3 linked regions of the Homo sapiens genome follow. The protein of the gene in region 3 purifies or fractionates together with the protein of the main gene of each other region. This does not show direct contact. Each region holds a gene or a part of one and is shown on either strand. Other genes may lie near its edges. The genes, in order: UBE2O, MARK3 and FGF13.

Region 1 (7,125 bases), on a different chromosome or scaffold from region 3:
TGAAGTGCTATCATGTCTGCCACTAACTTAGCAGGAGTTAGTACCAGACATAATTCAGGAGGAAATATATTTACATAAGCATACAGATAAGGCAAATATGGCAGGATGTTAACAACTGCTGACTCATAATGGTTGGGGGTTAGCAATTACTGGCTTTCAACATTTTGGTATGGTCAATATTTTTTCCTATTAAAAAGTTGGGTCTTGGGTTCAGAACCAAAAACAAAAAAAGTTGGGGAATATATATATATATTTTTTTCCTCGAGAAAGAGTCTCACTCTGTCGCCCAGGCTGGAGTGCCGGGGCACGATCTCGGCTCACTGCAACCTCTGCCTCCTGGGTTCAAGCAATTCTCCTGCCCTAGCCTCCCGAGTAGCTGGGATCACAGGCACCCACCACCACGCATGGCTAATTTTTGCATTTTTAGTAGAGATGGGGTTTCACCATGTTGGCCAGGCTGGTCTCGAACTCCTGACCTCAAGTGATCCACCCACCTCGGCCTCCCAAAATGCTGGGATTACAGGCGTGAGCCACTGTGCCCAGTCAGAACATTTTTTTTTTTTTTAAGTCCACAGACTTGGGGATGGGAAGGGCAGTCACAATCACAAGATTTTATACCCACAAAGTCTACATGGCACAATGGAGCTATCAAGTAAGCAGCTGGGCATGTGATGTCACTGTGGAAGTCACCTAAATACAGGTACCAGATGCAGCTACAAGCAGGGAGGTCACTCCAAAAAACTGGGGAGGAAGAGATAAAGAAAAGAGAGGTCTTTGGAAAAGCTGCACATCTATGGGTAAGAGGAAGAAGACAAAAGGCAAAAAAGAGAAACATTTGGTATAGTCTGGTATAATAGAACCCCAAGGAAGGAAATACCGTTAAGAGGGCATGGTCGGCCAGGCGCGGTAGCTCATGCCTGTAATCCCAGCACTTTGGGAAGCTGAGGCGGATGGATCACCTGAGGTCAAGAGTTCGAGACCAGCCTGACCAATATGGTGAAACCCCGTCTCTGCTAAAAAGACAAATATTACTCGGACGTGGTGGCGGGAGCCTGTAATCCCAGCTACTTGGGAGGCTGAGGCAGGAGAATCGCTAGAACCCAGAAGGCAGAGGTTGCAGTGAGCCAAGGTTGCACCACTGCACTCCAGCCTGGGCGACAGACTGAGACTCCATCTCACAAACAAAGCAAAACAAAACAAAACAAAACAAAGAGGGTGTGGTCAGCTAGGCACCGTGGCTCACGTCTGTAATCCCAACACTTTGGGAAGCTGAAGTGGGAGGATCACTTGGGGTCAGGAGTTCGAGACCAGCCTGGCCAATACCATGGTGAGACCCTGTTTCTACAAAAATATTTTAAAAAGCCGAGTGTGTAGTTCCAGCTGCACAGGAGGCTGAGGTGGGAGCACTGCTTGAGCCCAGGAGGCGGAGGCTGCAGTAAGGTGTGATCACGCCACTGCATTCCAGCCTGGGTGACAGAGCATAAGGCTGATGGATCAAAATGAGGACAAGGACTGAGAAAATGTCAGCAAATGCAGTGATCAGAAATTCACTAGTCATTTGTGACCTTCAGGGGAGCCGTCACACTCAGTGGTGTGAGAGGTTAGACAGAAAATGACTGAAGGCGAGAGCAGGTCATGAGGAAATGGAGGCAGACATCCATTTCCCCCAGTACAGTGCTGGGATGACCCAAAAGCACACTGGGGGACCAGAGAAATGCTTTCTTCCTTGGCTTGAAGATGATGTCATCAACCTTCAGGGCCCTCAGAATCCCTTAAATAATAAAACAGTCAGAGCACATGAATACCGGGATGCTTTCAGCACTGCATATGTCAAGCCCTGAGGCTCCCAGAATCCCTGGAGACGTATTTGTGTGTCTACACTTCCCACCTGCACTAGCGGTGACCACACACACAGTCCGGTGACCACACACACAGTCCGCTGAATCTGCCGGTCAAGGTATCTATCTTCAACTGCCCTCTTCCAGAGGGAGCTCCCACAAAAAGGACCAGAATTAAAAGGAGGAGGAAGAACATCATCGGAGCTGCTGAGTGTGAAAAGACCAGCTCTCTTGCAGGATGCAAATGAAGGCCTCTCTTTTTAAGGGTGCCTGCAGGAAATCTCTCTGTCAGTGCTAGCTGGGAATATTCATGTCATTGTTGGGTAGGACTGACTGCCTTTTTTTTTTTCTTTTTCCAAGCATGACTCAGTGTTTTAATTTTTTTTTTTACTTTCAATTATCATAGTCAGACTGTTTCCCAGGTATAGTTATGCTATCAATTTAAACCAAAAGTGACCTGAAAAATGTCTTACTCCTTTGACTTAGCTGCAGAATATTAAATATTGCTGTGGCCTCTCTAAAAATGCAAACCAACTCAAAATCCCCCAACCAAAGAACCAGATTAAACCCAAAAAGGACATTCATTCCAATCCTTATTGCCCACTGAATACTTCTGAGTGGTATGTCAACTGACTGCAATGTTTAAACCATAAAAATGTGCTTTTCACAATACTGCTTCAGGAGAACACAGCCTACCTGTGTCTAGGGGTGACCTGGACAAAGCTGACCCAAGGATCCATCCAATACAGTCAGCCTGGATTGAAGGACATTAAATCCTCAATCACAGAGTATAGCTAACGAATGAAACAAAGGCAAATAACTTGGAGTAGATAAATCCAGAGAGTTATCCAGTAACACAATTCAATTTTATTCTCAACTACAGCAAATTCCAATAAGCATTTTGCTCTTCCCTGGCTATAACTGCACACATCAAGTGGCTCCTGACAGAGTCCCCCCGTGGCTGGCTGGAATGTCAGAAGATGAAGCAATTCCGAACGGGCACTCTTGCTCAGTAAGAGCTGCAAATGTGGATGGGCAGCATTTAGACCATGACCTTCTCCAGGACTGGCACCCATTCATGGGCAAGTGGAGCCTCAGGAAGGAGCTACAGTTAAAAATACCGAGATCCTATTAAGTGAGAAAAGTGATAGCCTCTTGTAAACTGGAAAGCACATTATAGACGTTCCTGATTGTAACTTGCCCCTTTTGATTGTCATTTTAAATCAGCAACTCCCCATCGCCATCCAGAAGCAGGCTAAGCCTTGGGCAAGGAAATTCCAAAAGCTTCCATCAGAATAGGAGCACAGATCATATCCTCCTGGGTGAAAACCCACATGTCACAGAAAACCACCCTGACTCCAACTCTGAGGGGACCGACCACCAGCGGCAGCTGACACTGATCACGTGCCCAGGACTGTTGTGCTGGCAATTCATGTTATACACGACAATTGCACCCTTTTAAAAAGTGCTGGCCCCCAACAGGTTCCACTGGATTCCATGAGCCCCCATGGTGGGTTAAGTAGTAAAAAATAGAAAAAGTTCCTCTTAGTATAACAGGAAAATGAAAAAACAAAAACAAACAAAAAAAAAAACCAAACAAACAAAACAGAGAGAAACAGGGATAAAAGTGAAGTAGAGATGGGGAAGGTGCAAAGAGGCCTCTAATGTCCTAAAGCAAAAACACACGGAAACTGAAGGGAACAGAAACTGAAATTGAGGTGGAACTCAGCCTCTCCAAGGAATCCTTCCTGAACCTGTCTCATGACTCAGCATTCCCAGCCGAAGGATGACAGCAGCAGAGCGGACAGGAGGTCAAGTTGGAGCTCCTAATGGAGCTGACCACTTCTGAGGCAACACAGAAATGCCAGTTACGTGGAGTGTCTGCACACTTGTTTTGCTCTAGGAGGTGGAGTTGGGGAATAAAACTGAACTGCAGTTCAGTGTTGGAATGAATCAGACTACAGAGGTTGCTTCATTCAACATTGAGGGGCAGTCAAAGGTTCTCTAGAAATGCAATGTGTTTTTGACAGTTATTTTGAGAATGACTGAGGGGTCAGGGAATGAAAAGAGTGGAATCTGCAGAAGCACACCGCCAGTGCGAATGCAGTGTTCCTCCCGTCCTGCTCCCTACCCATCATCTCCCTCCCTCCTGCCTGCCCACTGGCACAACTTCCACCTATCCCAACATCCTGTGCCTCTCTCCTTCCTCACTTGTAGTACCTCCTATTACACTAAGACTTTCAACTGTTTAAAGAAGGGATGATTAATGCCAACCACAAGGCTTGTGATTCATGTTGGATCAGGGCACTCGGTCACGTATAGTAATGATCTCTGAATCCTGAACTTAAGTATTCTCAGGTGAGAACAAAGTACATTTAGTTCAATTTGTATTCAGATTCCTCCACTTAGAAGTGTGACACTGGGCAATTTACTTAACCTCTCTGTTCCTCAGCTTCCTTCTCTGGAATATGGGGCTAATAATAGCACCACAGGGTTGTTGTGAGCGTGAAGTAAAACATCTAAAGCACTAAGAGTGCCTGGCACACAGTAACAGTATCCTGGATCATGACTGCTCTTATTACCTTAAAATATAAAGCAATACTCTATCATCTTTGTAATTTATAATCTCATTACCAGTCTTGAGAATTTCAAGAGACCTTTCAGACTCTGGAAACATACATACATACATACAGATTCATTCCATCCCCCTCCTGGAGGACGGCCGGGGTTACTTTAAATGTGCATTACTGAATTTCTCACAAAGTAACAGAGGTAGGAAGTTCATGAGTATTTCTAGAAGAGGTTTAATAAAGTCAAACCTATAATCCATCTGGTCACTAGCAACACGAGCCATTAGGAATTCCTATGCCCCTGAAACAACCACCTTCCCCACAACCCGCCTCGTGCACCTTTTGCTTCCCAAGGTGCCTCTTTGGTGCAGCATCACCCTCTTTCTCATGGAAGTGATCTTCTGAAGGCACAGGGCTGGCTCTCTCTGACAGACATCAGAATGCTGTCTGCTAATAACCAAGTGGCCATCCTAGGCTTGACCCAGCTACACTTCTGGTTATTCCATCCGAGCAGGATCATATCGGGGTTAGGAAGATAGACCTCTTATTTCATTGCAGAGGGAGAAAATGAGGCAGTGACTTGGTCAAGGTCATTCAGAGTAGGTGACAGCCAGGAAGAGCACCCAAGGGTTTTGGCTTCCAATCACAGTACAAAACACACACCCTTCATCTGGGGAAAGTACCCTTGAGTCAGGCAGCAGCCAGACAGAAGCACCATCAGGGCACTGAGGCCCGAGGGCTAGAAGGGGAAAAATCAAGGGACAAAGAATAAAATCACAGAACAGCTGTTAAGAGTCTACAAGTGCTGTGATCCTATCTGAATAAAACGCAATTTAGATTCACTTAGTCCTGCATCTTGGTTAACCTTATATAACTTCTTCACATTACATCACTAAGAACAATTGCTTTTAATGGGCCCAGCACCCAGACAAGTGAGACAAACTTCACGTGCCATGATGCTACACCTAAATAGCTTTCCCCATGGAAATGCTGGCCAGCGTAGGAGCCAAAAATAAACTGCAAAGCCAATTCCCGAGGGACCTGTCATCAGGGATGTTTCACACACACAGCTTCATAAAAGCAGGGTGATCACAGACAGCCCTAATTTAGAGGCACTATATCTCAAACCTGGTGAAACCCTGAATGTCATGGCAACTTAAAACAAAAGACAATGCAAAAGAGATGAAAAAGCACAAGAAAGCTAAAGCATAAACGCTTTGCCTCCGAAACGAAGGCTGAACTTGAACTGACAGACAGCAGTCCTGCTCCCTTACCTCGCAGGGGGCTGTTCTGCCCAACCATGACAGGTGGAGACCAGAAGGACCCACCACGTCTAGCCAGTGCTCATGAAGGTTTAAGTGGCTGCTGGCATTTGGCTTTGTTACAAAATTTTATTCAAAGGATGACTGGTGATGGGGAAGGGGCAAGCCTCCTCTAAGGAGATCCATGGCCAGATGGACAGTTTCAAGTGGCTACCTCGCTGAACAGGTCAGAAGACTGGAGAAAGGAAGAAGCATATAAGAGACACTGGCCACTAGCTCCTTTTGAGTCCTTAAGAGGCTTAATTTTGGTGGCTGGAAGCCTCAGGAACACGACAAATTCCATAGCTTCATGGAAGAACTTACTTTGTTTCTGTTGCTATTTTCATGAAGGCAGCAGGGAAAGGACATGACTTGCTGCCCAGTCTCTTCATCTCTCTTTGTAAATTTGTTCACTAAAAACTTGAGACTAAGATTAAGCCTTTACTCATTGCCCTCCAATTTACAGAGAAAACTACAAAAATACGCCACACCCTATGAAACACTCCACATTAAATAGATACTACTAAAAAATTTCAATGGGGCAAGGCACTGTGGCTTATGCCTGTAATTCCAGCACTTGGGGAGGCCAAGGCCGGTGAATCACTTGAGGCCAGAAGTTCAAGACCAGCCTGGCCAAAATGGCAAACTGCCGTCTCTACTAAAAATACAAAAATTAGCTGGGTGTGATGGCGCATGCCCATAATCCCAGCTATGCGGGAGGCTGAGGCACAAGAATCACTTGAACCCGGGAAGTTGAGGTTGTAATGAGCTGAGATCGTGCCACTGCACTCCAGCCTGGGTGACAGAGAGAGACTCTGTTTAAAAAAGAAACTCACACACAAAAATTTTCAATAGGTAGCAGCTTATTAAAAAAAATAAGTTTCGGGCGGGTGCGGTGGCTCCTGCCTGTAATCCCAGCACTTTGGGAGGCCGAGGCGGGCGGATCACCTGAGGTCAGGAGTTCAAGAACAGCCTGGCCACCACGGAGAAACCCCGTCTCCACTAAAAATACAAAAAATTAGCCGGGCGTGATGGCGTATGCCTGTAATCCCAGCTACTCGGGAGGCTGAGGTAGGAGAATCGCTTGAACCCGGGAGGCAGAGGTTGCGGTGAGCCGAGCTGGCGCCATTGCACTCCAGCCTGGGCAACAAGAGCAAAACTCCGTCTCAAAAACATAAATAAATAAAAAATAAGTTTCTCAAAACCATCACTACTGTAGTCCCAGCTACCTGGGAGGCTGAGGCAGGAGGATTGTGTGAGACCAGGAATTCAAGGACACCTGAGTAACAGTGAGACCCCATCCCAAAAATAATAAACAAACCAGTAACTCAAAAAAAAAAAAAAATCTGCCACTACATTATTTTGTCAATAATTGGGTTCTCAAATCTCATAACTAGATTAGTCAATCTTGGTCTA
Region 2 (7,125 bases), on a different chromosome or scaffold from region 3:
TTTTTAGTAGACACAGGGTTTCACCGTGTTAGCCAGGATGTTCTCGATCTCCTGACCTCGTGATCCGCCCACCTCGGCCTCCCAAAGTGCTGGGATTATGCGACCGGCCAGAAATTTCATTTTTATGTAATCAAATTTGTAAGTCTTTTATTTCATGGGTTTGGTGTTTGGGGTGACAGAAACACCTTCACCAGTCCAAGTTACAAAGCAAATAATCCCAAGGTTTCTTTCAATATTTCTGGAGTTTTATTTACATCTTTTTTTTTTTTTTTTTTGAGACGGAGTCTCGCTCTGTCGCCCAGGCTGGAGTGCAGTGGCTCGATCTCGGCTCACTGCAAGCTCCGCCTCCCGGGTTCATCCATTCTCCTGCCTCAGCCTCCTGAGTAGCTGGGACTATAGGTGCCCACCACCACGCCTGGCTAATTTTTTCTATTTTTTAGTAGAGACAGGGTTTCACCATGTTAGCCAGGATGGTCTCGATCTCCTGACCTCGTGATCCACCTGCCTCGGACTCCCAAAGTGCTGGGATTACAGGCATGAGCCACTGCGCCCAGCCCTATATTTGTATCTTAACTCCAATTAGAATTCATCCTTGTATAAGATGTGAGAAATTGATCCAAATTAATTTTTTTTCTGAGAACTACCAAATTGCCCCAATACCACTCATTGATTAGTAAACAGTGATTTTTTTTTTCATTTTTTAAAAAACAAGCTAACCCCTTGAAAATCAGATGATCACCATTCGCAGAAAAAGTGCACACATATGGGGTGTTCACATGTGGGTCTCAAACGAGGAAGGACAGCTACAGATTACATCGTAGCTTTAGAGAAGCAGGCACCCATGCAGAGGTCAGCATCCACAGGCAAGGAAAAGGGAAGGGAGAGGTGAGACGAGGCAGGAGGATGAGGTGAAAGTTAGCCCGGCTATACAGGCTTGCCTGCCTTCAGAAATTCCAAGAAAGATGAGGATTATGAAAAAGCTACTCCAATGAGGTGCTTCAGTGGAGAAAAAACACAGGGCTTGGACCAGCAGGCCTGAGCTCTGCCCCAGGTGTTTCTCATTTACTATGTAACCTTGGGAGACTTGGTAATCTCTCTTGGTCTATTTAGGGATAAAACAGAGGTTTGGTGAGTGTACAATACCATGTCTAAAGCTCTTTTTATCTCTAAAATTGAGCTGGGGGGAAAAAGGCACTAATAATCTGGATGGAATCTATGTGCTTAAGGAATAACTTACTAACATATTCCTTAGAGAAATGTGAAAATCCCATTGTCAGGTTTCTTCTAGGATTGAGGGACAAGTTAAACCAGATGGTTTCAGGGCAATATATGGGCATTTAATTGCCATGTGGTCCATAAGCACTAGAAACCCCCCTTGTTAGTGACTAACATGAACACAAAAAAGGCAGACCTAGATCAACACGTCACCTACAAATGCTAGGAGCACAAATCCTGATGTGAGAATGAGTTCTGAGCTCTCAGTTACACCCTAGAATAGCAGGCACTGTAGATGGTTTACTAGTGATATTAGTACACTGTTGCTTCAGTCTAAACCATGTAGAAAGGCAAGCAACAGAAGGAAGAGAAATGGAAATCAAGCCAAGTGTAATCATTTTTAGTACAAAATCAAAGCTGTCCACACCTAAAATGCCCTGTGCAGTCCTAAGTGTCAAATCTCAAGATGAAAGTATTAAGATGGAAAATGTCCAGAGAAGAGAAATAAAATGAGGCCGAGCGCAGTGACTCATGCCTGTAATCCGAGCACTTTGGGAGGCTGAGGTGGATGGATCACCTGAGTTCAGGAGTTCGGGACCAGCCTGGCCAAATGTGGTGAAACCCCGTCTCTACTAAAAATAAAAAAATTAGCTGGGCATGGTGATGCATGCCTGTAGTCCCAGCTACTCGGGAGGCTGAGGCAGGAGAATTGCTAGAACCCAGGAGGCGGAGGTTGCAGTGAGCCGAGATCGCGCTATTGCACTCCAGCCTGGGTGACAAGAGTGAAACTCCATCTCAAAAAAAAAAAAAAAAATAGATTTAGTTCCTGAATCCTGGAATAGTAGAATTAAAGGAAATATCTGCAATGTTAACATTTATAGTTATGGGCAAGTAAACACACACGCTAGCCTCAGGACTCTGACACACAGGCTGCCTTGAAGGCAGAGCAACTGTAGAGCCTGGTAAGCCTACCCACTGGGAGTCTTATGTCTCATAAAGGACTGGCTTCTAGGTGAAGTTTAAAAGGGAGAGTGGCTTAACCACACTAACAGCAAGAGTATGGATGAGAATGACACAGTACAACATTTAAACCAATTAAGGCAAAACTGAGGTTCCATATATTCTCCAGGGCTGTCCTGTCTATTATGAGAGTTACTGGCCACAACTGGCTATATATTACACTTAAGTACAAATTTTTTTTTTTTTTTTTGAGATGGACTCTCACTCTGTCACTAGGCTGGAGTGCAGTCACACGATCTTGGCTCACTGCAACCTCTGCCTCCCAGGTTCAAGCGATTCTCCTACCTCAGCCTCCTGAGTAGCTGGAATTACAGGCACACACCACCATGCCCAGGTAATTTTTTTATTTTTAGTAGAGATGGGGTTTCACCACGTTGGTCAGGCTAGTCTCGAACTCCTGACCTAGTGATCCACACGCCTCGGCCTCCCAAGGTGCTGGAATTACAGGCATGAGCCACCATGTCCGGCCAGGAAAATTTTAAAAGGGTAAAAATCAGCCAGGCCAATTACAGACTCACACGTGTAATCCAGCACTTTGGGAGGCCAAGGTGGGTGGATCACCTGAGGTCAGGAGTTCTAGACCAGCCTGGCCAACATGGTGAAATCCCGTCTCTACTAAAAATACAATATTGGCCAGGTGTGGTGGTGTGTGCCTATAGTCCCAGCTACTTCGGAGGCTGAGGTTGCAGTGAGCGGAGATCATGCCATTGCACTCCAGCCTGGGTAACAAGAGCAAAATTCCATCTCAAAAAATAAACAAATAAATAAGGCCAGGCGCGGTGGCTCACACCTGTAATCCCATCACTTTTGGAGGCCAAGGTGAGTGGATTGCTTGAGCTCCCAAGTTCAAGACCAGCCTAGCCAATATGGTGAAACCCTGTCTCTATTAAAAATACAAAAATTAGCCGGGTGTGGTTGTGCATGCCTGTAATCCCAGCTACTCAGGAGGCTGAGGCAGGAGAACTGCTGGGACCTGGGAGGTGGAGGTTGCAGTGAGCCAAGATCATGCCACTGCATTCCAGCCTGGGCGACAGAGCCAGATTCCATCTGAAAAATAAATAAATAAATAAATAAATAAAAATAATAAAAAATAAATAGAAATAAAAAAGGTAAAAATCATTTCCTCAGTTCAAGTACTTGATAGCCACAAGTGGCCAGTAGCTTCTTGACTGGACAGCACAGATACACAAAACTGTAATCATCTCAGAAAGTTCTACTGGACAGTGCTACTCTACAAAGTAAATCCAATGCAGAGGTGAAGAGAGTGAATAGAACTACAGACTAGCAGTTCTATTCAGTTCGGTACAGCGCCCAGTTCTAGCGCTGGGCATGGTGGCTCACGTCTGTAATCCTAGCACTTTAGAACGCTGTGGTGAGAGAATAGTTTGAACTTGGGAGTTTGAGACCAGCTTGGGCAACATAGCGAGACCCCCATCTCCATTTAAAAAAAAAAAAAAAAAGGAAAACTACAGATTAAAGCAGAGGTTCTAGAAGGGCAAATGGTAAGGTTTCCACTCAACTAAGCTTTATCCAGCAAAAATCTACTGCATGTATAAAGAAGATAAGAGCCTTGAAGTAATATGTAATCATGGCAGCACCTGCAGGAACACTAAGAAAAAATGCTGGCCAGGCACGGTGGCTCATGCCTGTAATTCCAGCGCTCTGGGAGGCCAAGGCAGGTGGATCACTTAAGGCCAGGAGCTGAAGACCAGCCTGGCCAAATGTGGTGAAACCCCGTCTCTACTAAAAATACAAAACTTAGCCAGGCATGGTGGTACACACCTGTAGTCCCAGCTATTCAGGAGGCTGAGGCAGGAGAATCGCTTGAACCTGGGAGGTGGAGGTTGCAGTGAGCCAAAATTGTGCCACTCCACTCCAGCCTGGGCAACAGAGTGAGACTCTGTCTCAAAAAAAAAAAAAAAAAAAAAAAAAAAAGAAGAAAGAAAGAAAGCAATGCCAAGAAAGGACATCAAGCCAGGCTCTGAGCAAGAGAATGCTTCCCAGTGCTAGGAGACCTCTTGCCTGGACTCTAAGAGAAGGCACTGGGATACTCCAAAACTTACCATGGTCACTGTAGCGTCTTTGCTTTTGGCTTGAAGAAACACTTCTCTGCACTTTGTGGTGAGGAGACTGGCCAGTACTGTTGTTGAGATCACTGCTCGGCCTAACCTTAGCAAGTGAAAGATTGCTGCTAGAACTGGAATCACTAGCATCCAGCTAAGAGAAAATGAGAAAAACAGAGCAAACCACAACACGAACCCAAATGGCTTATTAGGAAGTTAAACTTTTCATTAACACAGACCTCTCATAAACCGTTCATTCAGAGAGAGGAGGAATCACAACGTACAAAAATGACAACCCTAAACTCAAGCAAAAGTAGTTTTCTGACGGCTGGAAAGACACTAAAGGTAAGGTATTTATGATTTTCTTTCCAGGCTTTCTCAAATAACTTTAAATGTTGTATTTACTTCATCTGATGCTTTACGTCATTTCTAAGCTATTAATGACTACAGGTTAATTTATGAAAGACCAGGTTTATGACAACATCCATCTTTTTTTTTTTTTTTTTTTTTTTGAGACAGAGTCTCGCTCTGTCACCCAGGCTGGAGTGCAGTGGCGTGATCCTGGCTCACCGCAACCTCTGCCTCTCAGGGTCAAGCAGTTCTCTTGCCTCAGCCTCCCAAGGAGCAGGGATTACAGGCAAGCGCCAACACGCCCAGCTAATTTTTTGTTTGTTTGTTTGTTTTAGCAGAGACAGAGTTTCCCTATGTTGGCCAGTCTGGTCTCGAACTCCTGGTCTCAAGTGATCTGTCCGCCTTGGCCTCCCAAAGTGCTGGGATTACAGGCATGAGCCACCACGCCTGGCCAATATCCATCATTAAGGGTTAAGTTAAAATAGCTTATAATAGTCATAGGATTTAGATTTGCTATTTGCAAGTAAATCTAAAAAATGATGTATCAAATGTTACAAATATTCAAAAGATAAAAACTAAGAAAACAGTTTATATAAACTAATAATTACATACAGGGTATTTCAGCTCTTTCTGATTACTCTTACCTCTGAAGATTTTCTCCCCAATAACAAATATGTAGCTGTGATTTCATCGTATTTCATCTTACTAAGAGATTCTTGAATTTCTTCTTGTGAATATCCCATTCCCACCATAATATCTAAAAGAAGGGCATAATACAGTTTATGTGTTTTGTTTGGGTAAGAAATCATCCTTTTTTTTTTTTTTTTTTTTGAGACGGAGTTTCACTCTTGTTGCCCAGGCTGGAGTGCAATGGCGCGATCTTGGCTCACCGCAACCTCCACCTCCCAGATTCAAGCAATTCTCCTGCCTCAGCCTCCCGAGTAGCTGGGATTACAGGCATGAGCCACCGTGCCTGGCTAATTTTGTAGTTTTAGTAGAGATGGGGTTTCTCCATGTTGGTCAGGCTGGCCTCGACCTCCCGACCTCAGGTGATCTGCCCGCCTTGGCCTCCCAAAGTGCTGGGATTACAGGCGTGAGCCACCACGCCCGGCCAGAAATCATTCTTTTGTAGGGTAAAATAATTTTCATTTGACCTAAAAGATGACATATTACATATATTTTGTAACATAAATGGGCACTTGTTTCAGAGTTACTGGGTGCCATTATAGGAAACTGCAGGTAGTTACGTTCCTAAATATGACAGAACAGATAAACTGTTCATATGACTTGTGCTTAACTTTCCATTATTCACATTTTAGGCACAGACATGAGTCAAAACAGAAATATGTTACTTAGACAAAAACACATGAACATGCAGGCATGGAGTGATTACCTATTCTTTTTTGGTCTGAGATGTCTAGCTCTGGTTCAACAAATGGTTTGAGTTCATCTTCTTCATGCCCTGCATTGATCCACCTGTCCTTCATGATTTGCTAAAAAAGGTAAACTGTTCATTAGCAGAGTAAAATGAAATATTCTGATAACCGTAATATTTACAAAAATTTATTTTCAACATTTCATTGACTATCGTTCAAAGCATAAACTCAAAAAATATTTTTTAATGTTTCAATTCTTGCTTAAAAAGCCGCAGGATATATCCAGTATGGCATACAAATCAAGCAAAGATCTAAGGTCACTCTAAAGACTCTCCAAAGTTACTGCTTGTTTCCACCTACATGATTACCTCTAGAGTGCCGCGTTTAATTGGATTTAGCACCAGGAAACGTTTGAGAAGGTTTTCACAGTCTGTAGACATGTAGAAGGGAATTCTGTATTTCCCTCTTAATACTCTCTCTCTCAGTTCCTTTGGAGAGGTACAGAGGAAAGAAAACGAGTAAGTCAACCTTTAGGTTTAGTTAACAAAACACAACAAAAAACCCCCTGAAACCCCCCGCACTGATATAATGTTAAAAATATTAAGCCATGTAATATTAGGAAACTTCTTTTAGTTTAGTGAAGTACATGGGTGCAGCTTCTTATACCTTTAGGTTTTGCCCATCAAAGGGAAGTGAGCCACTGACTAGTGTGTATAAAATGACCCCCAGACTCCACACATCCACTTCTGGCCCGTCATATTTCTTGCCCTGGAAGAGCTCAGGTGCTGCGTATGGAGGACTGCCACAAAACGTGTCGAGTTTACCGCCAACAGTAAATTCATTGCTAAAACCGAAATCTGCTATTTTAATGTTCATATCGGCATCTAACAATAGATTTTCAGCCTAGAGGGAAAACATCAAGACAAAAATGAAATTTAGCCAAAATAGAATTAGAATTATGACAGGATTAGGCATTTTAGAAAAGCTTTCTGTAATGATATGAAGTTACCTCCTAATTAATGTGAAAACATTCTTTCTAGAGAAAAAAACAGGAGACAAGTCAGAACTCCTTATTTTATAATATTAACAATAACAAACAT
Region 3 (3,616 bases):
TATGGAAATATGGTAAGTTAAAATGCCACAGATTTCACTGTTCTTGCCAATATCCAGCAAATTTTCTAAAATAAAGACTTCTCAAATTCTTACAAGTTTTTAGTTAATTTCCAGAGTTATGAACAAGTTAATTTAGAATTTTCACCTGTGTTCTTATTGCTTTTATGGATGAAAGGGTTTTCAGAAGTTCTTACACTGCAATTTTAGTAATTAACCACAGGAAGAAAATATGCAAACTACACATCTGACAAAGGATTCATAACTGGACTATATAGCAAACTCTGAAAACTCAATGAAAATTTCTTAAAACATCCAATAGAATATAGAGAAAATTCATCAACAATCATTTTGTAAAATAGGATATATGTATCGAAAATAAACACATGAAAAATATAGCTACTTTAAAAAAGTTTGGCAATATATTACAGAACTGAATATGTGATTATTATATAACTCAGAAATGCTTATTAATTTGTCTTAGAGCAATGAAAGCCAATGATCACACAAAATCTTATACATGAATGTTCATAGCAACTTTATTTGTAATAGCCCAAAAGTAGAAAGAACACAAATGTTGTTCAACAGGTGAATAGTTAAACTATGGCACATCTCTACCATGGAATACTACACAGAAATTAAACATATTGCATTACTGATATACACAACAGTTTGGATGCATCTCAAGGGAATTGTGCTGAGTGACAAAAGCCAATCTCTATGTGTTATATACTGTATGATGACATTTATATAACAATTCTGAAATAATAAAATTATAAGGATGAAGAACAGATTAGTGTTTACTAGCTTTTATGGGTGAAAAAGGATGACAGGGAGATGTTTATAAAGGAATAGCACAAGGGATCTTAGTGGTGACGGAACAGTTCCATATCTTGATCATTGTAGTGGTTACCCAAATATACACATGTGGTAAAATTGCATAGACCTACACACATAAACGTGCACGCACACACACACACACATACAAATTAGTGTATGTAAAACTAGAGAAGTCTGAGTAATGTCTGTGGATTATACAGATGCCAATTTCTTGGTTTATATATGATACTGCAGTTATGTAAGTTGATACCACTAGAGGAACTAGATAAAGGGCATATAGCACTTCCCTATACTCTTTGCATCTTCCTTTGAATCTATAAATATTTCAAAATAAAAGTTTTAAAAGATCAGTTGGAATATACACATGCTTATTCCTATAGTAGTGTTACTATATTCAGTTATTAATATATTCTCATAGCTTTCTTCATATGAAGATAAGGTATAGGGAAGAGTCATATCTAGTATTTGGGAAACTGAAAGAAACCCCAGTGGACCCACTTGAGTGTACATCATGGCAGGAAAAAAAAATTGTTTCAGATGTATTATTTTCTGGTACCATAGATAAAGAATAAGGATAATGCAATGGGAACAGTTGAAATATTGGCTTGTTTACTTGCATTTGTATGTTTGTTTTTAAATTTTTACCCTGTGCATTAGTTCATTCTCATGCTTCCATAAAGAAATACCCAAGACTAGGTAATTTATAAAGGAAAGAGTTTTAACTGACTCACAGTTCCGCATGGCTTCGGAGGCCTCAGGAGACTTACAATCATGGTGGAAGGCCCCTCTTCACAGGGTGGCAGGAGAGAGAATGAGTGCCAGCAGGGGAAATGCCAGATGCTTATAAAACCATTGGATCTGTTATAAATCACTATCATGAGAATAGCATGAGGGAAACCACCCCCATGATTCAGTCCTCCACCTGGTCCCACCCCTGACACATGGGGATTATTACAATTCAAGGAGAGATTTGGGTGGGAACACAAAACCAAACCATATCATTCTGACCCTAGTTCCTCCCAAATCTCATGTTCTCACATTTCAAAACACAATCATGCCCTTCCAATAGTCCCCCAAAGTATTAACTCATTCAAACATTAACCCAGAAGTCCAAGTCCAAAGTCTCATCTGAGACAAAGCAAGTCCCTTCCACCTATAAGCCTGTAAAATCTAAAGCAAGTTAGTTATTTCCAAGATACAATGGGGGTACAGGAATTGAGTAAAAATACCCATTCCAAATGGGAGAAGTTGGCCAAAACAAAGGGGCTATAGGCCCATGCAAGTCCAAAATCCAATAGGGCAGTCGTTAAAGCTTAAAGTTCCAAAATGATCTCCTTAGGCTCCATGTCTCACATCTATCCAGGTCACAATGATGCAAGGGGTGGGCTCCCACAGCCTTGGGCAGCTCTTCCCCTGTGGCTTTGCAGGATGCAGCCACCCTCACAGCTCTTTTCATGGGCTGGTGTTGAGTGCCAGTGGCTTTTCCAGGTGCATGGTGCAAGCTATTGGTGGATCTACCATTCTGGGGTCTGGAGGACTATGGCCCTCTTCTCAGAGCTCCACTATACAGTGCCCCAGTGAAGACTCTGTGGGGGAGCTCCAACCCCACATTTCCCTTCTGCACTGCCCTAGCAGAGGTTCTCCCTGAGAGCTCTACCCCTGCAGCAGACTTCTGTCTGGACATCCAGGCATTTCCATACATCCTCTGAAATCTAGGCAGAGGTTCCCAAACCTCAATTCTTGACTTCTGTGCTCCTGCAAGCCCAACACCATGTGTAAGCTGCCAAAGCTTGGGGATTGCACTCTCTGAAACAATGGCCTGAGCTGTATGTTGGCCCCTTTTAGCCACAGCTGAAGCTGAAGCAGCTGGGGACGCAGGGTACCATGTTTCAAGGCTGCAAAGAGCAAGGGGGGGTGCCTGAGGCCTGGCCCACTAAACCATTTTTTTCCTTCAAGGCCTCCTGGCCTATAATGGGAGAGGCTGCAGTGAAGGTCTCTGACATGCCCTAGAGACATTCTCCCCATTGTTTTGGTGATTAATATTTGTAGTGATAGGAATATTCTATATCTTGAAAGGAGTTTCTGTTACATGGTGCACGCATTTGTCAATACACATGAATTGATATACCTAACAGGTTTGTATATGATACAGTATATAATTTTAGCTCCATTTCTCCCCCAAGAAATATAGAAATATTAAACTCTACTTCCTGATATGCATGATAAAGGGTTTAAAGATGAAGTGCATTGATGTCTGTAACTTATTTTGAAATGCAAAAAAATAATTATTTTATAGATAAGAGCATTAATTGATGGATATATTTTCATAATGAAATGTTGGGGGAAATACTTGGAAGTGAATATAATCAACTAACTTGCAACCGTAAGTTGGAGATTGTATCAAATTTGTTAGAGGTGTGGACCAAGCCAAATTAAATTGTAACTATAAGTTTTTTAAAATTTGTGTTGAGCTAAATTGTAAGGTAAACTGAAAGAAGCTGTGTAAAAGAACCAAGGATCATCATGGTAAAGAGAATGAACATGAGGTGTGTGTGTCTGTGCATGCACACATGTGTGTGAGAGAAAAAGAGAGTGAGAAGGGGATAGCTGGGCACAGTGACTCACAATTGGTATCCTCAGGACTTGGGAGGTGGAGGTGGGAGGACCACATGATGCCAGGAGTTCAAGACCCACCTGGGCAACATAGTGAGACCCCATCTCTACAAAAAATGTAAAAATATTAGCTGGGCATGGTGGCACACGCCTTGTAGTCCCAGCT

The links.
Region 1: the proteins of FGF13 (region 3) and UBE2O purify together in Homo sapiens (co-immunoprecipitation; 2 studies listed by BioGRID and IntAct, with this or other methods). This does not show direct contact.
Region 2: the proteins of FGF13 (region 3) and MARK3 purify together in Homo sapiens (co-immunoprecipitation; 2 studies listed by BioGRID and IntAct, with this or other methods). This does not show direct contact.

Annotation. Positions count from the first base shown.
Region 1 is NC_000017.11:76,443,044-76,450,168, forward strand, and holds part of UBE2O ((E3-independent) E2 ubiquitin-conjugating enzyme), read right to left. Parts: intron 1-7,125. UniProt on the Homo sapiens protein: E2/E3 hybrid ubiquitin-protein ligase that displays both E2 and E3 ligase activities and mediates monoubiquitination of target proteins. Negatively regulates TRAF6-mediated NF-kappa-B activation independently of its E2 activity.
Region 2 is NC_000014.9:103,465,360-103,472,484, reverse strand, and holds part of MARK3 (MAP/microtubule affinity-regulating kinase 3), read right to left. Parts: intron 6,929-7,125; coding exon 6,692-6,928; intron 6,514-6,691; coding exon 6,394-6,513; intron 6,143-6,393; coding exon 6,043-6,142; intron 5,407-6,042; coding exon 5,294-5,406; intron 4,453-5,293; coding exon 4,299-4,452; intron 1-4,298. UniProt on the Homo sapiens protein: Serine/threonine-protein kinase. Involved in the specific phosphorylation of microtubule-associated proteins for MAP2 and MAP4. Phosphorylates the microtubule-associated protein MAPT/TAU. Phosphorylates CDC25C on 'Ser-216'.
Region 3 is NC_000023.11:138,614,216-138,617,831, forward strand, and holds the end of FGF13 (fibroblast growth factor 13), read right to left. Parts: 3' UTR 512-3,616; downstream 1-511. UniProt on the Homo sapiens protein: Microtubule-binding protein which directly binds tubulin and is involved in both polymerization and stabilization of microtubules.